Linked DNA regions of Homo sapiens. The protein of the gene in region 1 purifies or fractionates together with the protein of each later gene. This does not show direct contact. Each region holds a gene or a part of one and is shown in the gene's direction. Other genes may lie near its edges.

Region 1 (3,975 bases):
ACTCATTCATCATTCATCTCCAACCATAGCACATTGTCTATTTGACTCAATAAATACATGATAACTGTTTTTTAATTTTAATTTACCCTTGGCAACTCAACTGGGAGCTCTGAATTAAGTATTGCCCATCAGTTTCCCATGTCAGGTCAAAATGTCCAGCAATCTATACACTTTCCTTGCTCTTAAAACTTTCCTTGAACTTAAAACTATTGAAGTTTGGCCTTGGAATAAAATCATCAGTCTCTGAGGAAAAAACTTATATAATCGACTTCTGTCAATGATCACTAATGCCACAAATCTAGATCTCTCATTTGGAGTCTCAAATGGCAGATGAATTTGATTAGCTCCTATGACTATAAGCTAAGCTAATTATTACAAGTGGATGTGGAGAAAACAGTCCTATGGTGGCCTGTGCTATCTGATCTTGAACTTTTCCATTTCTTCCTTTACTGTTTCTATTCTACTTCATCGAGACAACAACTGCATGAAGAATGTTTAAAATGGAAATTTCCTTTAATTGATATTCAAGATCTCCTTTAGATTAGAACTTTATTATCTAGAGAGAACATGTAGCCAATATTAATGATGATCTTGTTCCATTGATATGTATCCACAGATTAAAGACGGCTGCTCTTCCTTCTTCTGTTGAGGAAGTGCTTCCTGTCACTCATTTTCTCCATAACCTGAGATAAATCTTCACTGGTTTAATGACAATAAGCATCCTCATCTTACCGTGACATGTACAGGAAAAAAAAGAAACCTAAAATCTTTTACATAAAAGAAGTTTCATAATCACAAGCTATCACAAAGGGGAAAATGTATACTTACCATTGATAGTTTTACCATAAATTTCCTGACCTTAATTTGATTAAAATCTCAACTTAAAGACTGCAACAATACAGATTTCTTTAAAGTTTAATTGCTCATTTCACTGAACATTGAGTGCAGGAAAAACCTCAACCTGGGGCAAAAACGTGGTAGAGCGGAAGGAGAAGTTAAGGACTGAGCTGCTTTGCAGATCACAGTGTTTGAAAGTGAACAGCCAACCTGACAAGAAGCAAAAACCACAGAACAGAGTACCACATCGTCTTTCTGTTCACTTTTTTTCACAAAATCATCCAGGCTCTTCCTACTCTCCTCTCTTACCACCTCTCTCTTCTTTTTTTTTTTTTTTTAGTTATTTCACAGATGCCACTGGGGTAGGTAAACTGACCCAACTCTGCAGCACTCAGAAGACGAAGCAAAGCCTTCTACTTGAGCAGTTTTTCCATCACTGATATGTGCAGGAAATGAAGACATTGCCTGCCATGCTTGGAACTGGGAAATTATTTTGGGTCTTCTTCTTAATCCCATATCTGGACATCTGGAACATCCATGGTAAGGCACCTGCTTAGGTTATTTCTGGTTTTATTTCTCAGGGGGTCTTGGAGGCAACATTCTCCCTTGCTGAACTTAGTACGGTGTAACGTTTATACGAAGTGGGTAATCGTAGATGAAACCAAGCTGTTACATTTGCTTACCGAAGACATCGTAGAGCATAAACCAAATTAGAACATAGTATTCACCTGCCTAATCATAGGCATCGCATCAATAGCTTGGCTGACTTTCTTAAAAACATGTTGATGGTAGGAAAAGAGAACTGAGTAGATGTTATAAATAGTTAAGTACAAATCTATCACTACTTCTTGCAAAAATGCTCTGGCTGCCATACTGATAATGAATAGATAGCTCGTTCTTTCCAAACTGAGTGCAGTAGAGTGCTGCAGTGCTCAGTTGGGTAGGACAGTTGTTGGATAATCGGAATTATACATATCTCCATGGTTACCCTCAAATAATATTACCTCTAAATAAAATCTCTATACTTGCTTCATTGGGATGTATGCCTTGAGAATACCGATTGAGAAAATGCTACAAAATATAGGAGCAGAACTTTTCGTCATTGCTTCTATTTTGTTGAAAGGGAATGGTTCCTACTTGGTTGTCAATTGAACACAGAAAATAAGTTGGATTCTGCAAAGATGATATTTAGCCACCCCTGCAAAGACTTTATACAGGCAAAAAAAAAAAAAAAAAAAAAAAGGCAATTTCTTTTTTATTGTAAAGTCGCTTCCTACCTTATATTGCATAGGAACCCACATATTATCAAGAGGAAAAGCCTATGAGTGGCTCATCAGAAGCTTCTGATTTTTCAGGTTTTATTTTTTTATTTTTTTGAGACAAGAGTTTTGCTCTCGTCACCCAGGCTGGAGTGCAATGGCGTGATCCCGCCTCACTGCATCCTCTGCCTCCCGGGTTCAATCGATTCTTCTTCCTCCCGGGTTCAATTTATTCTCCTGCCTCAGCGTCCCTAGTAGCTGGGATTACAGGCACCTTCCACCACGCACAGCTAATTTTTGTATTTTTAGTAGAGATGTTGGATAACCCCAATTATCCAACATCTGTCCTACCCAACTGAGCACTGCAACACTCTACTGCACTCAGTTTGGGAAGAACGAGCTATCTATTCATCATCAGTGTGGCAGCCTGAGCATTTTCGCAAGAAGTAGTGATAGATTTGTACTTAACTATTTATAACATCTACTCAGTTCTCTTTTCTTGCCATCAACCTGTTTTTTAAGAAAGTCAGCCAAGCTATGGATGCAATGCATGTTGGGCAGGCTGGTCTGGAGCTCCTGACCTCAAGTGATCCACCTGCCTCAGCCTCCCAAAGTGCTAGGATTACAGGTATGAGCCACCATGCCCAGTGATTTTTCAGGTTTTAAATATTCTGTCTTATTATTCCCTACAAGCACACATTTATCAGTTTGGCTACTGCAATTTTAAATTAGAAAATCTGGCCACTGAGGTTCTATGGAAAGTCTATCTATAATTTTAAACTGTGTAGTTTGGAATATGTCTCTATGATGCCAGGATGCCACACAACCAAGTGCAAAGTAAAAAAGTCCTTAGTTACTCAAACATCTTTATGTTTGTAAGTATCTAGTATTAAGTCAACTAGGTGCTTAGATGGTTGACTGAATTTTCCACCTTCCATCAGATGCCTACAGTCACATAGCTACAACTGGAGTCAAATATTATTAAATAGATTTCTTCCCCATTTGAAGGATACATAAACTACTCTCTATGAAATTAAGAACAATGAGTTTCAGTGCTAAACCACATTGATGGTGGGGTAAGACCTTTATTTCTCCCAATGTGCAACCTAGCATTTGCAAAAGTGAACTTGGCTGTTAGAACTGGGTTAATTTACTGGCTCTGCCACTTACTGTATGGCATTGATTAAGTCTCTTCTCTTCTCTTTAGTTTCCTCATTTGTACAATACAGGTAATAATTGTACCTAAATTATGGGGCTGCTGTGAAGACTGTAGATGCAATAATATGGGTAAAGTGCCTCGCATAGTAAGTGCACGTATTTAAAGCTCAGTAAATGTTAGTGGTATTTTTCCTAAATTATTTTCACCATGCAACCTCTATGTAATTAAATGAGAATTATGTTTTAACATTATTATTTAAAATAGTTGAGTTTTTAAAGTTAAAAATAAAATAAATAAGTACAATATATTTTGCAATATATTTAGCCCAAAATATAGTGAATCAAATTATTCAGAAAATGAAATATGGCTGGGAGCCATGGCCCTAGCCTTTAGTCTCAGCACTTTGGGAAGCCAAGACGGGCAGATCACCTGAGGTCAGGAGTTTAAGACCAGACTGGTCAACATGGTGAAACCCCGTCTCTACTAAAAATATAAAAATTTGCTGGGTGTGTTGGGAGGTGCCTGTAGTCCCAGCTACTCGGGAGGCCGAGACAGGAGAATAGCTTGAACCCAGGAGGCAGAGGTTGCAGTGAGCTGAGATCACACCACTGCACTCAAAAAAAAAAGGGAAAGACTTGAGTGAAGTACTGGTCAGATATATACCAGTTGATATAATGGATTGCAGCAGCAGTTGCATTAAATTAAAGCTATAGGTTAAGA
Region 2 (3,500 bases), on another chromosome or scaffold:
TTTCCAGAAGTCTAGATGATGCCTTAAAACTTACTGAACAACCAGAATTAGCAAATAAAGTAGACATGGTCTGGATAGTTGGTGGCAGTTCTGTTTATAAGGTAAGTGTAGTTGTTGGTAAATAAAAACAAATGTTCTGTTCTACTTTCAGCTTCCTTGCCATTTAAAGGAAGTGGAAGAAACAGGTATAACTCATTGTCTGAACCTTTAAAAAATTAAGCCATGCGTATAGGAAGCAGCACATTATCTGTACTGTAAATTATTTGTTGTTAGTTGAAATTATTTGTTGTTTGATACTATACAAACTAAATAGAAATGCAAAAATAAATATTTTAGTCTGTATCAGCCTTTTTTATTTATTCATTTATTTTTGAGACAGGGTCTTGCTTTGTCACCCAGGCTAGTGTGCAGTGGCACTGTCTCACTGTAGCCTCGAGCTCCAAGGCCCAAGCAATCCTCCCACCTTTCCTCCCAAGTAGCTGGGATTATAGGCACACACCATCGTGCCCGGCTAATTTTTGTATATTTTGTAGAGTCAGGATTTTGCCATGTTGCCCAGGCCGGTCTTGAACTCCTGGGTTCAGGCAATTCACCTCCCAATGTGCTGGGATTACAGGTGTGAACCACCACACCCAGCCTATTTATCTTTTTAATTGGCAAATAATTGCATATATATATATATATATATATATATATATTATGTACAACATGTTGTTTTGAAATGTGTATACATTGTAGAATGGCTAAATGGAGCTAATTAACATGTATTACCCACTTATTTTGTGTGGTAAGAACACTTAAAGTCTACTCTCTTAGCAATTTTCAAGAATACATTTGTTATTAACTAAAATAATAGATGTTGTACAATAGATCTCTTGAACTTACTCCTCCTATGTAACTGAAATTTTGTATCCTGTGACCAACATCTCCCCAATACCAATCTACTTTCAAATCAAAGAATAATTGATGTTTCCAATTTAAAATCCATTCTAAATCTTTTCCTGAGAATTGTACTTGCATTGCACTGGTTTCTACTCCCTGAATGTACCCTAGATACACTGAGTTATGCCTTTGTCTTTCAGGATGAATATATCTCTTACTGAGAAAGGGTTGGGGCTCTCAGTTGATATACACTAACTAGATGTATATGAATTTATTACAAGTAGAAAACTTCTTCAACCAATTTTTTTTTGTTTTGTTTTTGTTTTTTTGAGATGGAGTCTCACTCTGTCAAGACTCAGTCGCCCAGGCTGGAGTGCAGTGACACGATCTTCGGCTCACTGCAAGCTCCACCTGCCAGATTGACGCCATTCTCCTGCCTCAGCCTCCTGAGTAGCTGGGACTACAGGCGCATGCCACCACACCTGGCTAATTTTTTTGTATTTTTAGTAGAGACGGGGTTTCACTGTGTTAGCCAGGATGGTCTCAATCTCCTGACCTGCTGATCCACGCACCTCGGCCTCCCAAAGTGTTGGGATTACAGGCGTGACCCACTGCGCCCGGCCAATATACCTCTTTTTTAATACCAAATGACTTCCAGCTTTAAAATTTTTGAGGATAACAAATAGAATTCTTTGCCTTTTAAAACACCAATGAAAAATTAACATTTATGAGGAGGAAGAAAAATCTAGTTTCTGCCATGTGGGTGGTCTTGTGGTAAGATATATACAGTGAAATTATTTTAGAAAGAAGAGGTAGGCCGACGCCTGTAATCCCAGCACTTTGGGAGGCCAAGGCGGGTGGATTGCTTGAGGTCAGGATCTAAAAACCAGCTGGGCCAAGATGGTGAAACTCCATCTCTCCTAAAAATACAAAAATTAGTTGTGTGTGGGCGCGGGCCCCTGTAGTCCCAGCTACTTGGGAGGCTGAGGTGGGAAAATCACTTGAACATGGGGGGCAGAGGTTGCAGTAAGCTGAGATCGTGCCACTGCACTCCAGCCTGGGTAACAGAGTGAGACTCTGTCTCAAAAAAAAAAAAAAAAAAAAAAAAAACTCTCAGTTTCTTGGGCTCCTGTTTCTAGAACCTCTTATGTTCCCCATTTGTAATAGAAGAAAAGGGACATTTTTTCTTGATATTTTTATCCAAGTATGAATTTCTTCTAAGAAAACAAGTTATTTATTTTGTTCAGTGCCTACCACACTTTGAATGATTCATTACCATAGTCACTTGAAAATGTATTCTTTAAGCAATATAAGTACGTAAATGCCTTTATATAATATGATAAATCTACATATAGATAAATAGGAAGTAGAACCTTCGAATGGTATTTTTACACCTGCCTCACATCACAACAGCTTGTAGATATCATTCAGGCTTATCTTCCTATGGGCCAAATCGGACCTCCCAGCCTGTTTTTGTAAAGAAAGTTTCAGTGGAACACAGACCCACCCATTCATTCAGTTCTGTCTGTGGCCTGCAAAGGTAGGAAACCCTATGGCCCTCAGAGCCTAAAATATTTACCATCACTCCTTTTACAGAAGGTTTGCCTTGTATAATCAACTTTTTTTTTCTTTTTTTTTGAGACGGAGTTTCGCTCTTTTTGCCCAGGCTGGAGCGCAATGGTGCAGTCTTGGCTCACCGCAACCTCCGCCTCCCGGGTTCAAGTGATTCTCCTGCCTCAGCCTCCCAAGTAGCTGGGATTACAGGCATGCGCCACCACGCCCAGCTAATTTTGTATTTTAAGTAGAGATGGAGTTTCTCCATGTTGGTCGGGCTGGTCTCAAACTCCTGACTTCAGGTGATCCACCTGCCTCGGCCTCCCAAAGTGCTGGGATTACAGACGTAAGCCACTGCAGCCGACTTATAATCAACTTTAATGCAGAACTTCACCACCACAGTCAATCTAATAATCCAGACAGCTCCTAAGTGACTAAGGGGCAGGTAACATAGACAGCATGTGCAGGACAAAGGGATAATTCACGCCCTAGGCAGGACAGAGCAGAATGGCTCAAGATTTCTTCACACTACTTAGAACAGCATGTCATTTAAATCTTATGAATTATTTCTGGAATTTTCCAGTTAATATTTTCAGACCACAGTTGACCATAGATAACAAACTGGAAAGTGAAACTGCAGATAAGGGGGGAGTCTGCATTCCACTTTTTAAATTTTTGGTACAGTAAGAATTAGTAGAGCATCTATTTGGTTGTAGCAAAGATAATAAATGATTTAATATAAAATGATATATTGAAAATAAAAAGTGAAATTTGTTCTGTACCCTTATTTGGAATTTTAAAAATAAACACTTGGATTTGTTGTGTGTGTGTGTGTGTGTGTGTATTTTTCTTTTCTATAAACTATTTGAGATCAAGAATTACTGCTTTGTTAGAATTGCAATTAAGACATACTTTTTATGAATGAGAATTTTAATACACTCATTCTAGGGCAACTTTTTCTGTAGAAATTATCAACCATATTTTAGGCAGTAGTTAGAAAAGTCATGTACAATATAAAGCCAAATGTTAATACAATTGTTAGCACCAAGAAGCAGAAAAATTAC
Region 3 (3,500 bases), on another chromosome or scaffold:
TCTTTGGCAACAGAACCTCTTCTCCTCAGCCTATGCCTAAAACAGCCAGACGGATATTGCTAACCTCTATTTTCCCCCCAGTTTCCGATATTTAAATATTTCTTTTTGGTCACTCAAAGCAGCTGTCCTTACAACACTTCCTCTCGTAGACGTGTTAGTGTTTTTCCAAGATGGGAGTTTCTTTTTCATAACTTACATTCCTGGGCCAGCACCCTCTGTCCCTTGCTGAATGTTGGGAAACACCGGCCTTATTAGGAACACACAACTCATTCCTAGTTGATTCTTGACTACAAAGAATTCCACAGATGGCCGACCTCATTCACTTATGTTGATTCTTATTCATTTTTATTTCAAAGTGGACATTTTGTGAGCTAGTCCCCAGATTCTGTGATTTATTTAGGGTCCTGGGGCATCCCTTGCATTTGACCAAATAAAAACATGTCTGTGAGGGCAGTTTGTAATGTGTAAAGAAAGCCATGTTTATTTCTGATTATATTTCTGATTTTATTTCTTATTTGGTCTCTTCTTTGCATAGAGACCAAATAAGAAAAGGTAAATAATGATGGTAATATGCTCTTTAGAAAGGTAAATAGAACACATATATAGTTGGACATTATAAAGATCTACCTTGGCCAGGCACGGTGGCTCACACCTGAAATCCCAGAACTCTGGGAGGCCAAGGTGGGTGGATCACCTGAGGTCAGGAGTTCGACACCAGCCTGGCCAACATGGCAAAACCTCATCTCTACTAAAAATACGAAAATTAGCTGGGTGTGGTGGCAGATGCCTGTAGCCCCGGCTACTTGGGAGGCTGAGGCAGGAGAATTGCTTGAACCCAGGAGGCAGAGGTTGCAGTGAGCCAAGAGCGTGCCACTGCACTCCAGCCTGGGTGACAGAGCGAGACTCCATCTCAAAAAAATAAAATAAGATAAAATGAAAAATAAAGATCTACCTTTCCTCCTAGAAATAGACTCATATCCTATCCCTCAAGTGGTCTCTGGCTCTCCAAAGCCAAGTTGGACCTTGGACCAGACAGAAGCCAACCAGAGGGTATACAGTCTTGGGAATGTGTGAAGTAGGGTGGCCACAGATCAGGGCCCAAGCACCCAAGCCTCCTGGAGAGGTGGGGCCTCTATAGGGGGTGTCCTCAGGGTTCACCACTCTTCCATCCACACTGTCTGTGCAGGCCGCTTCTGCGGGTCCAAACTCCCTGAGCCTATCGTCTCCACTGACAGCCGCCTCTGGGTTGAATTCCGCAGCAGCAGCAATTGGGTTGGAAAGGGCTTCTTTGCAGTCTACGAAGGTACTGAGGAAGGCGGCGGGCGGGAGGAGTCAGATAGGAGGTCTCTGGGCATGGTAAAACAACTCCCTCCTGGCACCTGAGGGGCAAGATTGTGGGTTCCCAAGGGAAGAAGCAGAGAGAATGATGGGATTGCCTGGGACTGGGGGTTTGGTGGGGAACTGAAAAGCTGGGGGACATGGGAGGGACTGGAGGAGTGGGGAAAAGAGCTCCCTAGCAGGGCAAAGCATGCTGACTCACCACCCCTTCCCACCCCATCCTGTGTCCCCACAGCCATCTGCGGGGGTGATGTGAAAAAGGACTATGGCCACATTCAATCGCCCAACTACCCAGACGATTACCGGCCCAGCAAAGTCTGCATCTGGCGGATCCAGGTGTCTGAGGGCTTCCACGTGGGCCTCACATTCCAGTCCTTTGAGGTAGGTCAGTGGCCCTGTGATCTGACCTTTGAATCCAGCAGTTGCTCCCTGGGACAGCTGCCTCTCTTTGGGCTCCCAGGGGTGGGTCTCTGGCAGCCAGAGCCCCTTCCACTGATGAAGCCTCGACCCCTAGATTGAGCGCCACGACAGCTGTGCCTACGACTATCTGGAGGTGCGCGACGGGCACAGTGAGAGCAGCACCCTCATCGGGCGCTACTGTGGCTATGAGAAGCCTGATGACATCAAGAGCACGTCCAGCCGCCTCTGGCTCAAGTTCGTCTCTGACGGGTCCATTAACAAAGCGGGCTTTGCCGTCAACTTTTTCAAAGGTGCCTCCTCTGTTACTCTCCCCTGCCCCAAGGTGCCTCGTGACCTTCATCCCTTCTTCACTCACTCATTCAACACGGAGACTCCAGGAGGCATATTGATACCAGTGAGACCCCAGGGCTGTGCCCTTAAGGAGCTCTGGGCTAGCTGGGGAGAAGAGGTCCCCCAATGTGGATTAGAGGCAGGACCTGCTGTATGATTCAGGGAGGAAAAAAGGCAGTTGGAGGTTTTTTTTACCTGTGTGACCTTGGGCAGGATATTCTCCCTGAACCTCAGTTTCTCATCTGTAAAATGGGCACAGTAACAGTCCCTCCGCCACAGGCTTCACATGAGGATTGAAGGAGAAATGAAAGAGGGGTCCTTAGTCAGGGAACAGCACGTGAGAGACACCAGCCCAGTCCATGTGCTCTGAAGGAAGGCTCTGTGGGGTTCCAGCCATCGGGGAGCTGGGTGGGTCTTGGGGCTGAGTGGACAAGTGAGGCTCACAGCCAGCTTCTTCCCTTGAATGCCTGGAGTCTGTGACACCCTTTCCTTCCCACCACAGAGGTGGACGAGTGCTCTCGGCCCAACCGCGGGGGCTGTGAGCAGCGGTGCCTCAACACCCTGGGCAGCTACAAGTGCAGCTGTGACCCCGGGTACGAGCTGGCCCCAGACAAGCGCCGCTGTGAGGGTGAGTGCCCCCAGACTGCCTCTGACCCTGTTCTTTCCCTGGCACCAGCCCACCTGCCCAGAATTTTTTTTTTTTTTAGACAGGCTTTTGCTCTGTCACCCAGGCTGGAAGTACAGTGGCTCAATCTTAGCTCACCATAGCCTCCCATTCCTGGGCTCAAGCAATCCTCCCACCTCAGCCTCCCAAGTAGCTGGGACTACAGGTGCACATCACCTTGCCTGGCTAATTTTAAAATTTTTTTTGTAGCAATGAGGTCTTACTTTGTTGCCGAGGCTTGTCTCAAACTCCTGGCCTCAAGTACTCCTCCTGCCTCGGCCTCCCAAAGTGCTGGGATCACAGGCTTGAGTCACTGCCAAGATTTCTTATGCCCTTGGACAGACCCCTTCTTGGAAAAGCTAGATGGATACCCCAACACTCTTTTCATAGCTCATGGATAAGAAACACATGTCACATTGCAACCCCGAGAACACACTGTCCCCCCGTAGGCCGCATTCTGGCTTTGGGTTTGTTTTGTTTTTTCATTCTTGGGGTGTTTTCGGGTTTTTTTTGTAAATGACCATCTTGACTTGCTAACTGATATCACCACCCACCAGGGTGTTATGATCTACAGGTTGGGAAACCCCTGTTGTGGGACAGACACTGTTTCCGCCTCTCCACGCATGGTCCCGAGATGCTGGGGACAGCACTCCGAGGCTAATGGCTCCAGCTCACTAGGCCGATCCTGCTGTGCCCCCGAGCTGCTCCCTTTCCTGCACCTCCCAGGACCGCCCCTCCCTGAACTGCT
Region 4 (3,500 bases), on another chromosome or scaffold:
GGCATGAGGTCCTGGGAGGCACCTGTGGGCCGTGTGACCTCCATGGTCTGTGTGGCCTCGGACTCGGGTGTACAGACTTCTATCCTGAATGGGAATCCACATTTTTGTGTTCTATGTTCTTGGCCTAGATTACTTTTCATCTCTCTCTGAAATCTCTCCCAGGTAGACTGGTCATTTACAGAGTGAGTGTAGGACCGTCTGCCTGGAGTCCTGACTGCCCCGAGTCCCAGCTGGCCCATGAGCTCAGACTGCCCCTTGGGCCTCAGCACCCGCAGGGCTGGACGCTGATGTAAACTCAGCTGTGCTGTGGTTGGTTGCACGCTGGATAAAACTTTAACCACGGCGGCCTTTATCTTGGTCACCAACAGTTATGGTGGGTGGGAGACCTGGGGGAGGGGGTACCAGCCTTGCTCTGGGGGCCCTGGAGAAAAACTCACAATGAGGCGAAACCTGGAGAAATCCAAGCTCCAAGTTCAGTCTTTCTAACCGGAGGTAGAAGGTGCCGGGCCAGATGTTAGGAACTTGCAAACATTCTTTCTGCTGATTAAAGTGGTGATTGGTCTTGAAGACGTTGGGCTGCGGGTCACATGCTCTGTGGCCTGAGCTTTGTTCTGCTTCTGGGTGAGATTCTTAGAGAGGCTGTGGTGTAGTCCGTCCCTGCCACGCACACCTGGACGTCCACACTGGCACAGGCCCGATTTCTACATTTCCAGGGGAAATTCAATGGTTCTAGTTGTCAGCTGGGGCGACCCTTACGGAGCCTGTGCCCTCACCTTTGGGAACAGAGACTTTGTCTCTCCTGCCTCTGGGGGTGGGGTCCGAGGCCTACAGGCCCTGTGTAGGCTGGGGCGGTGGGTGGGTTTGGGAGAGGCATGGGATGGTAGGGGCTGAGCTGCCTTGGGGTCCTGTGGGGTTGCAGGGAGGCAGCGGCCTCTTGTGAGGAGTGACTTGAGCCCCAAGGGACCAGAGCAGGCATTCGGCGGTGGGTCCTCGCTCACCCTCCGTGTGCCTCCTGGGCCTGTGGGGTCCTGCGCAGGTCTGTGGCCCCAGTACACGTCAGGCTGGCTTGGGGTCCCAGAACTTTGCTGTGTCCTGTGAGGCAGGTGCTTGGGTTTCCTTGTTTACACTTGGTGACCCTGCGGCATCTGCTTAAACCGAGCCTGAGGTGATTTCCAGTGCCCTGTGGGTGGTGGGTTGCTTATCCGAGGAAGCAGACATGCAGGGATCCTCGGAACTGACAGGGGCCCAGACTCTGAGGTTCACCGGGGGCCCCCGGAGCTGGGACCCACGCCTGGCATCTCACGGGAACGGGCACAGATGCAGGCCCCTCCCTGGGCTGAGCACCTCCAGGGCCCTCACGAGAGGCCTCTCCTATCCTGATGGGGTGGAGGGGCAGGAGGGATCCGAGGAGGCTGATACCTCTCCTCTCCCCAGGGTATTCGCCTTTCATCAGGGGACGGGGGCCCCTAAGCCTTTAATGCTGCAGGAATGGGTACATAATGTGGAATGTCGGTGCCGGCCGTCTGGCAGCAGTGACGCCATCCCCTGGGCCAGGCCGGCTCCCCAGCACTCTCCGGCCAGCGCCGCGGTTTCCCTTGCCTCCCGTTCCTGCACTTGCTGTAGCTGCGAGAGCCGACGGAGGCTGAGCCGGGCAGCGCCAGCCCCGCCGAGCCTGAGGTGAGCCTGAGCCTTTGGCCTGGCAGCACGACCCACGGGAGGTGGACGAGCTCGTCTGTGTGTCAGAAGTTCCAGTTTGTGCTGACTCAGGAGGACAGAGGCTCCGTGGGCTGGAACCCCGGACAGGAGAGGGTGTGTGAGCCCCGTCCCCTGCCCAGCCAGGAGGAAATCCCCCGCTCCGGTGGGTTTCGTTGGTGTGATCGTGGTGCGTTCATGCTGCATAATCGGCTTCCTTGAGTAAACTGAGACACGCCGATGACCAAGAGTTGGCCGGAACACGGGGGCAGGCTGCTCCTCCAGGGGTACACACTGGGGGCCAGGCGGGAGGGGACCCGGCCCCAGGACCTTGGGATTTGGCTGACTACGGGCAGGACCTCTCAGCCCTGCACCAGCCGCCTCTGCAGGCGACACGGACGCCTTCCTTGGATGCTGAGGAAACCCCGCAGGATGGGGGTGGCAGAGAGTGGTCAGGTGCAGCTTCCGGCCGTGCCCAGACCTGTGCCCAGCAGACCTGGCTGAGGCCGTGTGGGGCTGCTGTTTGCAGGCCAGGGAATCCGGGAAACGGGCACCGTTCAGTGGCTTGGGGAATGTGGGTGGGGGCTGTCTGGTTCTGGGGTACACAGACCCGAGACAGTCCAGGCAGGTCCCAGGATTCCAGTCTGTTCTTCAGCTTCTCCCAGGGCTGTGTGTCAGATGCTCCTGGCTTGGCCACATCTGTGCTTGGGGTTTGGGGTGCAGGCTCTGTGTAAGGCCCCCCAATGCAGGCCCCAGTGAGCAGGTGCCCAGGGCCGGGCAGCAGCATCGTGGACACAGGCAGTGGGAGGGGAGGGGATGCTGCCTTGATGCTGATCATGAGCACGTGGTGCCGTCCCTGGCTCTCCAGGACGCCGGAGTCCTGCAGCGTCTCAGGGGCCTCAACGCCTCCCCCCTTTAAAATCCTGCCCCTGGCTGAGCCCGTAGGTGAATGACCAGCTCGGCGGGCGCAGAGCCCCTGCCGATGAGCCCCCTCCAGGAGCCTCAGAGTTTGGAGAAGTCCTTGATGGGTGGGAGGGATGGGTGGAAAAGTGTGGAAGATAATTCTCATTATTTCCTGGAAGTAGAGGAGAGGGGCTGATTTTTCCAAGGCGTCCCATCTCTCGTCCATCTTTGGCTTCCTGCTTGGTGCCTTCTCTCCGGCCACTGTAATTTTCATTTTAACCATCTCTGGGCTTGTGGAGAGGAAGGGTGTGGCCCCCGCCAGCTTCCTCACCAGGAAGAGGGAGGGAGAAAGGGAGGCAGGGGGAAGGGCAGGGGCTATGGGGCCAACACCCCCGGGGCACCCCAGCAATGGACTGCAGCCTGGAGTGCGGCCGCAGCGCGACGGTGATGATGGTGGCCTTGAGGGGAGCCTTGGGAGCTCAGCCTTGGGTCCTCGAGCCCACTGGAGCCCACCCTCCACCCCTACCCACTGCTCCCTGTTCTTGGCTCCTCTGAAAGCACCTTATCCCCGTCACCGGCTCCTCTAAAAGCAGCGTGTCCCCCCGCTACCCCGTCACCACCTGTGTGGGAGACCCAGTAATCGTGGCCACAGAGGTTTCCCGTCGGAACTGTGTGAGTCCCTCTGGCTGTCCTTACCTGGGCAGTCCTGCCGGACCGGTCGGTGTCTGTCATTCTCAGCCTCTCCTCGGAACCAGCCGGTCCTGCCTCTCTACTTAACACCTGCCGTGCAATCTAAGTCCCCGCAGCAGCGTCCCCAACCCCACCCTGCCGGTCCCTCCCACCCTGTTCATGCTAGCTCCTGAGAGACCTGCCTGAGATGTCCACACCCCAGCCCTCCCCCTCCG
Region 5 (3,500 bases), on another chromosome or scaffold:
GACTCCAAGGGGGCCACTCAGAGCCTGTTGCTGAGACACTTCTGTTCTCGCGGGTGTACAGCAAGTACTCAGTGACTGTGTGGTGGGGGGAGCTGGGGCCCGGGCATTAATAGATGATCCACAGAGCTGTCATTCTAAGTCTCAGTGCAGAGCCATAGGGGTTCCCAGCAGAGAATGGTCACTGAGGTCAGGGTGCCTCCACCACAGGAGGGGCCTTGACAGATGTAGACCACTTCTGACTGGGACCCACTAACTTCTCACTGGGAGCAGAGTTAATCAAGTCACAGAGATGGGTAAGAAGGCAAGGGGCCACTTCTCATGTGGTGAGCGGTACAGGTGAGCAGAGCACAGGGCTCCAGCAGCCGGATAGGGAAGGGGGCCCCAGCCCACCCTACAGCTCTACTCCCTCCATCCTGCTGCAGACCCCCCATTCACACAGTGAGTCAGTAACAGGAAGGAGCCCTTGGACTGCGGCAATGCCATTAGCGACCCCATGGGGGAAAGGGGAAGTGGGGAGGGAAAGGAAGAGGCGAGGCATCCTAGCTCCCTCAGGCCGGAAGGCTGCAACAGCTGCAGCCAGCCTCCCACTCTGCCCTCACCCCGTCCCGGCCCCACCACTCCACTCACTCAGTGGTCGGTGGCCAGGAGCCTGGCCAATCAGAAGCACCAAGGGCATCTTGAGACCTCTCCCCAGATCTACTGAATAAGAATGTCTAAGATTTCTAGCCATTACAACTACAAAGAAAAAAAAAAAAGAGGAACTCTGGAATCGGTACTGGAAAAGTCCAGCCCTCCTCCATGATGCCCTGATCAGGTGCCTGTAGAGGCCCTGACCCACCCTGATCAGGGTGACGTTAAGGGGTTCTGCCGAGAGGAATCATCAGCTGGGAAAAACTCTAGTGGTTCACTTTGTCAGTTTTCCAGGATCTTTGGAACATCTGGGGTGTGTTCTTTCTTTCAAGTCACGGGTTTAAACGGAAAAGATAAAAATTCCTAGACCAGCAGGAGGGAGGTGTCTGTTGCCCGGCAGTGTCCAGGCATCCTGTTCAGGGGCCAAGCTGAGCACCCGGTGGGCCAGTGGGAAGGTCCCACACCCTCCAGCCGTTCCCATCCTCCTGCCCTTCTTCAGGATGTGAAGGTCTTCCGGGCCCTGATCCTGGGGGAGCTGGAGAAGGGGCAGAGTCAGTTCCAGGCCCTCTGCTTTGTCACCCAGCTGCAGCACAATGAGATCATCCCCAGTGAGGCCATGGCCAAGCTCCGGCAGGTAAGTGCCCCACCAGGCCTGCCTGGCCCAGGTCCTGACCCGCAGCAGACCCGGCCCAGATCCCATCCCGCAGACCCGGCCCAGATCCTGACCTGCAGACCCGACCCCTGCAGCCAGCCTAGCTCTAAGCTCTGATTCCCCAACCTTAGCCTCCCACCCAGCTCCTCATCTTCACGCTGTTCCTGGACCCACTGCCCTTGACCTGCCCTCATCCCTGGTACCCCATTCACCCTAGAGTCCTGAGCCCCTGATTTTGCCCCAGGCCAAACCTGACCCTAGAGCTGCAGATCACTAACTGAACCCCAACTCTCAGATTTCTCCCATCTGGTTCCAGCACCTCCCCGTGTGTGACAGGCTAGGGGCTTGGGCTCTGAGGTCAGATCAGACATCACATCTCCTCCGTCACTCATTAGTTGGGTGACATTGGACAAGTTACCTTCAAAGCCACAATTTTCTCACTGAAACTGGGTTATGGGGGAATTCAGTGAGCAAACATATGTGAAGTGTTCAAGACCCTCAAAGCTGCCGGCCTGCTCCTGCTGTCTTCTTAGACCCAGGGCCTTGCCCCAGCCTCATCTGAGTTCCCTGGCCTGCCCAGCAGAGCCTGCCCTGGGGGCCTCCTCGCCCCTGCGCTTTGCCTGCTTTCCCAAAGGGACTTGGTTCCCTGGATGTTGGAAAGTACGTGATTCCAGAGGTCATATGCCCTGGCACAGCTTGCCTGGCCCACCCACCTCCACCTCCCATCCACACCTCAGCATTCTCCATCAAGCCCCAGAGGTCAGCCCAGTGGCCAGCACATAGTTTGGGAAGCATCCATTCTGGATAGAGGCTGAAAAGGCTCGACTGTACTCTAGGCATCAGCTTCACTGCCAGTTGGAGAGGGGTGGGGCTGCCACCCTGCAGATGGCCCCAGCGTTCTAAAGGCAGTCAGCTTGGGCTCGCCTGACTCTGGAGGGTCAGGGGAAGATGGACAGGGAGCATTCTGAAGCCAGGTAGGAGTGACTTCTCTCCCACACACAGAAAAATCCCCGGGCAGTGCGGCAGGCGGAGGAGGTTCGGGGTCTGGAGCATCTGCACATGGATGTCGCTGTCAACTTCAGCCAGGGGGCCCTGCTGAGCCCCCATCTCCACAACGTGTGTGCCGAGGCCGTGGATGCCATCTACACCCGCCAGGAGGATGTCCGGTTCTGGCTGGAGCAAGGTCAGCTGGGAGCTGGGCACTGCCCGCTGCTGGGCGGAGGGAAGGGGACAGGGAGACAGCACAGAGCAGTGGAGGAGGGCAGGGGCATCATTAGTTGAGTCTCATCATTAGCCAAGTCTCATCATTAGCCTTTCCTTTGTTCAGGAGACATTTACTGAACACCTACAGAGATGTACTGGCGCAGGAATCAGAGATGTAGACACTCAGTTCCTGTCCCCCAGCAGGGTAGATCTGCACAGAGTTAAGTGTGATAGAATACCATGATAGCTACAGGCGTTCAGGGAGGGACCCCCAAACCAGGCTACAGTTGGTCTGGGAAGGCTTCCTGGAGGAAATGGAGCCTGTGTGATTATTCAGCGAGAAGATTCAGCCAGAGGAAAGGGCCCTGCTCCAGGCAGGGCACACAGACTCTGCTAGGCCCTGTGGAGGGAGATTCCCAGGTACTTCCCCTTGTCCCTGCCCTTAGTGAGGACACAGAGATGGGGCCTTCTGTCATGGGTGTGGGGCACAAGGACACCCTGCCCCCCTCCACTGACACCTCTCAGATATCAGCTTCAGGCCCTCCCTGGTGCCAGCATCTCTGCCCCAAGATCCTTGGAAGCTCCTCTCCATACTGCATGGTCCCTGCCTTCCTGACCTCTGTGACTTCAGCGCTGACCCCTCTCTGGGTACCTTTTCCAGGACCGCCCTCAGGTCCCCTGTGTGGAGGGGAGAGGGAAATGGCGCCATTCCAACTCTGAGCCCCTGTGCCTTCTGCCAGCCAACTGAGCACTGGTGAAATGCCTGCTCCTCCCAGGGCAGGCCCAGATTTAGAAATACCCAACCAAGCTGTGGTCTTGCCCCCCACACACATACACCCTCCCCCATGGCCTGCACCCCAGACTATGCCGCAAGCTTGACATAAGTGTCCTCCAGAAGCTGGCCCCTCCCATACAGCCCCTGAGCCTAATCAGGCCGGTACCTTCCGTCTCCTCCAGCGCCCCAATATGCACACTTTCCCATTTGATCCAAGCCCTGGCCACCCTGACCTGACCT
Region 6 (4,169 bases), on another chromosome or scaffold:
TTCGGTAAAAGACAGACTAGGCATGTGCTTAAGGAGCCAGCAAATGACCATTTACATTAATAATTTATTTAATATAGAAATTTTTATTGAAGTGATGACTTCTAAATGTGATTTTTGGGGGCATTATACACTTGCTTCGAGGTTTAATCTTCAATCCACATGGGGGGGCACCATAATCACTGGTGCCCAGGGCCCTCGTCTAGCCCCTGTGAGGCCCTTTGCAGTCCCTCCCTTGCCAGCCCCTCCAGCCTCCGCCATTTGCCCCGTGGGCTCTCCAGGTTCCACTTGAGGAGCTGCCCCCTGCCCCAGCCCAGCTCTACTGCTGTGTGACCTAGCGTAAGTCCCTTAACCGCTGTGTGCCTCAGTTTCCTCATTTGTTAAAAGAGGAGGTTCCAGTGGTAGGTACCCCCTGACGATGTGCAAGCATCACAGAAATGACACAAGACACACACTGAGAACATGCCTCGCGCGTGGCAAGTGCTGACTGTTACCTGCCATTATTAGGCTCCCCCGCCGGGGTCTCAGGGCCTTGGCACAAGCTCTTCCCTCTGCTTGGAGCACTTTCCTCCACTGACCTTTCCTGGCGCTCCAGGTCAACTCCAGGAGCCTTCCCAGTACAGTCTAGGTGCCTTCTCCTTCCGCAGCGCCTGAACCACACAGGAATAAGTAAGGCGAGAGCGCGCCCAGAGAAGAGCAGAGAGTGCAGAAAGGGGCTGAGTTAGTAGAGGCATTTCCGCGGGGATCCTTCTCCTGCCAGGCCTGCACCGGGGCCGTGGCGACTGAGAAGTGCACAGGTGGCTCCCGGGTGCTCCAGAAGGGCCCCAGAGCTCCTGGCCCGGCTAAAGGCAGGAGGCGGGTGCGCGTCTCCCCCGCGAAGCTGGATCAGTACTGGGGGCGCAGGGGGCGCACGCCGCGCAGCGAGGGCTGGCGGGGGCGGCCTGCCTGGGGCGCTGCCCAGGCTCACGCGGGAGCCAGGTGGGGGCGCGGGGAGGAGCAGCTGAGCAGGTGCCGGGAAGGAGGCGCCTGCAGCATGCCATGGCGACCCGCGCACGCGACGGCGGGGCGGCCGGGTGGCACCACTGGCGGGACCGGAAGGGCGCCGCGGCCCTAGGATCTCTGCGCCGAGGCCCGCGGCGGAAGCCACGACGGCCATGACCACGCTGACGCCCAGGCTGCGAGCCCCTCGCCCGGGCCGCCTGCCCACCCGCCACGCCCAGGTAGCACCTCGGGGTCTCCCCACCCGCGACACCGGCCGCAGCCCCGGGCCCCCTCGCAGGCGTGGCCCCCGCTCCCAGGCCCCGCCCCCGCCCCCCCATTGGTCAGTCCCGGGGTGGGGGCGGGCGACGCGGACCGCTGGGCAGGGCAGGGCAGGGACTCGCGGGAACCGCACCAAGCGGGTGGCTGCAGGAGCTCGCCCATCGCCCCTGCGCTGCTCGGACCGCGGCCACAGCCGGACTGGCGGGTACGGCGGCGACAGACGGATTGGCCGAGAGTCCCAGTCCGCAGAGTAGCCCCGGCCTCGAGGCGGTGGCGTCCGCGTCCTCTCGTCCAGGAGCCAGGACAGGTGTCGCGCGGCGGGCGCTCCAGGGACCGCGCTGAGGCCGCGGTCGCCGCCCGTCCCGCCCCGCCCCGCCGCCCGCCGCCCGCCGAGCCCAGCCTCCTTGCCGTCGGGGCGTCCCCAGGCCCTGGGTCGGCCGCGGAGCCGATGCGCGCCCGCTGAGCGCCCCAGCTGAGCGCCCCCGGCCTGCCATGACCGCGCTCCCCGGCCCGCTCTGGCTCCTGGGCCTGGCGCTATGCGCGCTGGGCGGGGGCGGCCCCGGCCTGCGACCCCCGCCCGGCTGTCCCCAGCGACGTCTGGGCGCGCGCGAGCGCCGGGACGTGCAGCGCGAGATCCTGGCGGTGCTCGGGCTGCCTGGGCGGCCCCGGCCCCGCGCGCCACCCGCCGCCTCCCGGCTGCCCGCGTCCGCGCCGCTCTTCATGCTGGACCTGTACCACGCCATGGCCGGCGACGACGACGAGGACGGCGCGCCCGCGGAGCGGCGCCTGGGCCGCGCCGACCTGGTCATGAGCTTCGTTAACATGGGTGAGTGCGGCCGCCCGCGCGGGGACCCTCGGAGTAAGCTGGCTGCAGGGGAGGGGCGCGCATCCGCGGGCTGTGCCGGGCCCTGGCCGAACGGGGAGTCACAGACGGTGGACGCGAACCACAGGGGAGTGGGACCGCCGTGGTTAGGGAAGGTCTAAGGGTCATGGGGGCCCCCTGGGCTGCGGGGTGGTCAGGAGCAGAGTGTGGGGGACTGTGGACTCCCAGGCGCTGCCTTCACCCTGCCCCAAACACACCCAGGAGTAAGAATCAGGTGATGTCTTTGCCCACCTGGGCTGCCCCGGGAAGACAGCCTGGTCCTGGGGAGACAGGTGAGTAAACAGAGGCCGGGATGCTGTCACTGTGATAAGGGCAGTACTGAGGAGAGGGACAAAGTTCAGCGTGGAAACCTGTGGTCACATCGGAGTGACCAGAGCTGAGTCGCGTGCCCTGAGTCCACAGCAGGCTCTTCTCTGTGCGGAGCCTGGGTGGGGTGCGGCTGTCAGGGGGGCGGCTGGGGAAGGAGCAAACTCAGCTCGCTGGGGCAGGGACTGTTGCCTTGTCACCCTGGGCCCAACACCTGGGATGTGATCTGGTATGGGGTGAGTGTCCAGTCCTGTGGAATGGTCCAGTGGGCAGCTGGACCCACTTTGTTCTCCCAGGCAAAGCCCGGCTTTTCCTGTCTGCAAATATCTTGTATCAAACCCTGGAGCTATTTATTCCCTAAGATCTCAGAGATTTTTTTTCCAGTACTAAACTCTTTGGTCTATGGTCATGTAGTTACTATTGGTCAGGTCACCCATCTGCTTTGCCTCCTGTCTGTGGCTAGTGACAGTCTGGGGTCTGGGGAACCAAGGACCACAGATCAGCCCAAAGTCGGGGAGCTGTGGGGCTGAGAGGAGGGAGAGGGTCCCTGGCCCCGGCCATCAGCCTCCCTCCACAGACAGCATCATTAATTCTTCATCCTCCCGACAACCCTGATAACAGCCACGGTCTTCATCCCCATCTCCCAGATGAGGACAGTGAGGCTCAGAGAGGCAGCGCCATGCCTAGGACAGCGCAGCCTCTACGCTGCTGAGCCAGGACAGGCCCAGGAAGCCTGACTGTCCATCCAGGGCTCAAAGAGATGACATTTCTGTTGTCAGGTCAGGCTTTCAAGGTGCAGAGACCTTTCTGAGGAGTCTGGGCTGAGGAAAACAGGGGACTGAGCCGCAGCAGGTTTTGTGGGGCCATCAGCCATTTGCTTCCTACACTAGGACAGAAGAGGGCATGGCCAAGCCTCTGCTTCCCGCAACCCAGAGCTGGTGGTGGAGGCGAGCAGCAGGAGGCAGCCATTCACCATCACTGAGCGCCCAGTGCCAGGGACAGGACTCTAGCCGGTGGGATCTGGATGCTGCCTTTGTAGTTAGAGGACAGGGTGGGGATGTGGGACAGAGGAGACCATCTGTGAAGCTGGGGCTGGGGCTCTGTCATCAGGACAGGCTGACACTGGGCTCAGGACCAAGAAGAGTTGTGGATGGAGTCGTCCAAGAATGTCCCCAGGGAGCCGCCCATCAGAATGCGTCACCACCCAGCCCACATCCGACCTCCCCTGGCATCCCCTGGGTCAAGGCATGCACAGCCTGGTGGGGCTATTGCTATGAATTGGGCAGGGCCTACCCCTCTGTGTGACCTTAGGAAAGTTCCTCACCCTCTCAGCCTTCGTTGCTCCTTGTAAAATGAGGTGCCTGGTGATCTGTCCTCAGGGTTGTTGTGTGATTGGTAGAGGGGCAGGAGTAGAAAGCCTGTGCTGCTCCCCTCAGAGGGTGAACCTGGACCTGGGCACTGTTGGCCCCAGGCCCTCCCAGCTGTGGCCTAGTTCGGAGGTGACAGGAACATCTCCACATGTCTTATACACATGTAAAACCTAGAAATGGATTCTAAAAGCCAATCAAAAAGTGTTTGTACCTGTTTTTAGAATGAAAAGTAGCATGTGAACTTTCACAGCCTTACAATTCCTCATTTAACTCATGTGAGACTGTTTTGCCAGCCCTGTTTCATGGGCTCAGAGAGGTTAAATAGCCAGCCCAGGGCCACACCGCACATCCGG
Region 7 (3,500 bases), on another chromosome or scaffold:
TGTGAGTTTACTGAAAAGAAGTGCAAGTTCATGGCTAGGGTTGAAATGTCCCCTACAGCTTCTGTCCCATGGCTTCCATGAAGCCACTGGAAGATCTGGGAAGTGAAAATAAAGTCGTCAGAGACAGTTAAAACATCTCTACACTCCTCAGACCTGGCTGTTTCCTCGCCTCATTTCCATGTCTCCTTCCCAGAAACCGTTTTAAGGAGGGGAAAGGTTGTTGGTACCTTGATGCCTATGAGGATGGGTTGGTCTCATAGTAAATGCATGCTACATGCTGTAAATGCAAACCTTGAGCATTTCAGGCTCTTGGTATTCAAAGTGGGGTCCAGAGCCAGCAGCACTGGCGTCCCCTGGGAGCTCATTAGGGATGCACACTCTCAGGCCCACCCTGGACTTTGGGGCACAAGTCTGCATTGTAACAGGTTCCCAGGTGACTCCAGGGTGTGCACATTCAAGTTTGGGGAGCACTGTTTTTGGCCATTCTCTGCTCCTGGAGCAGTAAGGTTGCATGCTCCACCTTGCAAAAGGACAACATTTTATAAGTCATTTCAAGTGGGGTGGGGAGTTAGGAGTGGCAGTGTCTAGGACTAATTCTCACCTGGAATAAGGACAGGCTCTGATGGGTTAAATACCTTTTGATTTGCATTGTAGTTGCTTTAAACCGGCTTCAGCTGAATCTCTTCCTGCAGGTAATCACGTGCACACACACACCACCTTCCTGAGCTCTTTGTGCCTTTCTCTCAGAAGGTTAGCTTTTCTGGGAGGGACCTTTCTGTTGAGCTCTTGGCCACCCCGACAGGTTCACCTTGCAGATGCAGAAAGCAGAGTGGACGCGGCAGCCTTAAGCAGCGGGGCTGCGTGAGCTCCAAGAACTTTCCTGTGGGCTTTCTTGGGAGCCTCAAGTTGGAGCTGGAGTCTCCTTGGTTTACAAACCCCCGTGGTGTGAGCGTACAGAGCAGGCGGGTCCACTCATTGTGCTCCAAAAGTGAGTGTGACATGTTTGGTCAGCAGCAGGCTTCAATTTGGCTCTACGGGGATTGCAGAATTGGTGTGTAAGTTATCTTTAAATTGGCCGATTGTTGAGCATAAGTATAAATTTCCTCTGTTTGTTTGGGAAGGACGGTCCTTAGTAAGGATGTGATGGCCAGCCAGTGGCTCCAGTTTCCCGTGGAGGTGGATGCTGGCCCTTCTCTCGGGCCAGCTGTGCACCACCAGCCCATCCAGCCATCTGGACTATATCCGTCAGTTCAGTCTTCCACTCGCTAATCTTTAGCTGGTACTTGTGGCTGGAATGATTCTCAGTGTGGTCAGAAATCATCCATCCTGTGGGTATGGGATAGAGCGGAGCTGCAGGAATCTGCCCTGACTGGCTGCTGTCTTTCAAAGACTTGCTTTCATGTGTACGTTCTTAACAATGAACACCGGTGCACAGCTGGGCATGGCGGCACACTTCTATAGGCACAGCTACTCTGAAGGCTAAGGCAGGAGGATCACCTGAGCCCGGGAGTTCCAGACCAGCCTGGGTAACGTAGCAAGACCCCTGTCTCAAAAAAAAAAAAACAAAAAACAAAAAAACGGAAAGAAAACCTACACACAAATGAGGCCCTGGCCTTGGCTAGTGATATAAATCAGACCACCCTGATACTTACCCACTGCAGAGACCACAGGGAGCTCTGACAGGACACCCACAAGCTGCTACCAGCTTCCTGGACGTAACCCTTTCCACCTATTCTGTCTTCACGCAGAGTTCATGGTCCTATCCCTCTTTGCAAATTTAGCTCTCTCTGCAAGAAGGGTACCTCTTCAAGTATGTTTTCCAGAAAAATCATTCTTTTCCCCACCAGACCAGCTCTTTCAACCCAGAAAAATTAAAGTTGTAAATTCTTCCATCATCTGTAATCTCAGTGTCATTTGCAGCACTGCTAGCTCTCTTTGATCCTAGGCCATTGCGATGGAAATGACAGGCATGGCTCTGGAATAGAGCAGCTTGTGTTGGGACCCTTGATTTTCCTGTGAAGAACAGAGGAGTCTTTCTGGCCCCTTCCCCTCGTATGATCCTGTGATTCTGCAATTTTAAGGCTGCTGCTACAGGCAAAGGCACACCATTAAAATCCAAACAGAGCCCCCAAAACCATGCTCTCAGCAGCATCCAGATGGTCTGAATGCAACCTTCTTATCCCTTTGAAGGAACATTTGGGAGATGGGACTCTAGGTTCGGGGGGAGACCCACCCTACGAGGTTCTGCTGCGGGGCTAAGCCTTGTTCCTCTTGTCCCTCCAGGGCCGGCAGGGCCTGGGCTCCATTTTCGTCTGGGCATCTGGGAATGGCGGGAGAGAGGGGGACTACTGCTCGTGCGATGGCTACACCAACAGCATCTACACCATCTCCGTCAGCAGCGCCACCGAGAATGGCTACAAGCCCTGGTACCTGGAAGAGTGTGCCTCCACCCTGGCCACCACCTACAGCAGTGGGGCCTTTTATGAGCGAAAAATCGTAAGTTCTCTTGGCAAGTTGGAGTGCTTACAGTGAGTGCCTCAGCCCTCTGGGAATGAGTTTCTTCTCCCTTTCTCAGAAAGATGGCTTAGATTGAGGCCAGATTGTTCCGGATCCCAGGGTCCCAGCCTCACCCATCGGCGAACAATTTGAGCCTGGAGGTAAACCCCAGTCCCTTGGCAGCCTTCCTCGGACACTGGCTTTCTAATCTTTGCACAGAAATAGCAGTTAAACCCCTCTCTGGCTTTAGAGATCTAAAAATATTATTTAAGAACGAGGTTCCTTCTCATGATGTCTTGTTTTAACTCTGAAATTCTGTGGTCACATGTCTTGGAATCCAATGAACCCATCCAGTTCCAGCGTGTACAACAGAGTAAGAGAAAGACTTGGTTTTATACTGAGACATTCTAGAAATCCAGGAGTTCTTCTAGGCATTCTGTTGCTACAGAAGCACTTTTTCTGGACACTTTAAGTCGAGCAGTGGTTTCTGTCTGTTCCGCTTACTTAAGTGAACATAAGCATGATTTGTCTTTTAAAAGGTAACTGTTTTAGTACTCAGGTAGAATTTGTGCTTTTTCCTTCCCTACATACTTTCCTACTTAAAAAAAAAAAAAAAAAGAGGAAGGGAGGGTTTCCAGTTCAAATTAATGCAGAATTGAAGTGCAAAGTCATTACGTTGACTTGTAGACATTTTAAAAATGAGACTGTGGAGCTGGCCAGACATGGTTAAATTTTAAAGCTCACTAGCATCTTTTCATTTCTGCGGCTGCTCAGCCACATCTTTCGAAGTTATTTGCAAATTTATTTTTACACTTTTCTGTGGGAGCATACAGGCTTCCTGTTCTCGGCTTTGCTCCGCACCAGTGAAAGGTCAGCTGCCATCGTTCTGTCGCCAGCCTGGTAGCAGCTCGGCCTGGTTAACTAAGGTATTAATTTGTTATTTTCCTTTTCTGCTGGAGTACGCACCCCTGGGACGGGCAGCTGAGATGCTGAATGGTGTCCTG

The links.
Region 2: the proteins of BTLA (region 1) and DHFR purify together in Homo sapiens (affinity purification with mass spectrometry; one large-scale study listed by BioGRID and IntAct). This does not show direct contact.
Region 3: the proteins of BTLA (region 1) and BMP1 purify together in Homo sapiens (affinity purification with mass spectrometry; one large-scale study listed by BioGRID and IntAct). This does not show direct contact.
Region 4: the proteins of BTLA (region 1) and METRNL purify together in Homo sapiens (affinity purification with mass spectrometry; one large-scale study listed by BioGRID and IntAct). This does not show direct contact.
Region 5: the proteins of BTLA (region 1) and OAF purify together in Homo sapiens (affinity purification with mass spectrometry; one large-scale study listed by BioGRID and IntAct). This does not show direct contact.
Region 6: the proteins of BTLA (region 1) and BMP8B purify together in Homo sapiens (affinity purification with mass spectrometry; one large-scale study listed by BioGRID and IntAct). This does not show direct contact.
Region 7: the proteins of BTLA (region 1) and PCSK6 purify together in Homo sapiens (affinity purification with mass spectrometry; one large-scale study listed by BioGRID and IntAct). This does not show direct contact.

The regions. Positions count from the first base shown.
Region 1 is NC_000003.12:112,496,673-112,500,647, reverse strand, and holds the start of BTLA (B- and T-lymphocyte attenuator isoform 1 precursor), read left to right. Parts: upstream 1-1,175; 5' UTR 1,176-1,289; coding exon 1,290-1,377; intron 1,378-3,975. UniProt on the Homo sapiens protein: Inhibitory receptor on lymphocytes that negatively regulates antigen receptor signaling via PTPN6/SHP-1 and PTPN11/SHP-2. May interact in cis (on the same cell) or in trans (on other cells) with TNFRSF14.
Region 2 is NC_000005.10:80,634,484-80,637,983, reverse strand, and holds part of DHFR (dihydrofolate reductase), read left to right. Parts: coding exon 1-101; intron 102-3,500.
Region 3 is NC_000008.11:22,192,872-22,196,371, forward strand, and holds part of BMP1 (bone morphogenetic protein 1 isoform 3 precursor), read left to right. Parts: intron 1-1,186; coding exon 1,187-1,303; intron 1,304-1,573; coding exon 1,574-1,719; intron 1,720-1,852; coding exon 1,853-2,048; intron 2,049-2,590; coding exon 2,591-2,716; intron 2,717-3,500. UniProt on the Homo sapiens protein: Metalloprotease that plays key roles in regulating the formation of the extracellular matrix (ECM) via processing of various precursor proteins into mature functional enzymes or structural proteins.
Region 4 is NC_000017.11:83,086,109-83,089,608, forward strand, and holds part of METRNL (meteorin-like protein isoform 1 precursor), read left to right. Parts: intron 1-3,500. UniProt on the Homo sapiens protein: Hormone induced following exercise or cold exposure that promotes energy expenditure. Induced either in the skeletal muscle after exercise or in adipose tissue following cold exposure and is present in the circulation.
Region 5 is NC_000011.10:120,224,532-120,228,031, forward strand, and holds part of OAF (out at first protein homolog precursor), read left to right. Parts: intron 1-1,129; coding exon 1,130-1,264; intron 1,265-2,284; coding exon 2,285-2,465; intron 2,466-3,500.
Region 6 is NC_000001.11:39,786,066-39,790,234, reverse strand, and holds the start of BMP8B (bone morphogenetic protein 8B preproprotein), read left to right. Parts: upstream 1-1,369; 5' UTR 1,370-1,749; coding exon 1,750-2,083; intron 2,084-4,169.
Region 7 is NC_000015.10:101,392,208-101,395,707, reverse strand, and holds part of PCSK6 (proprotein convertase subtilisin/kexin type 6 isoform PACE4-AI preproprotein), read left to right. Parts: intron 1-2,283; coding exon 2,284-2,496; intron 2,497-3,500. UniProt on the Homo sapiens protein: Serine endoprotease that processes various proproteins by cleavage at paired basic amino acids, recognizing the RXXX[KR]R consensus motif.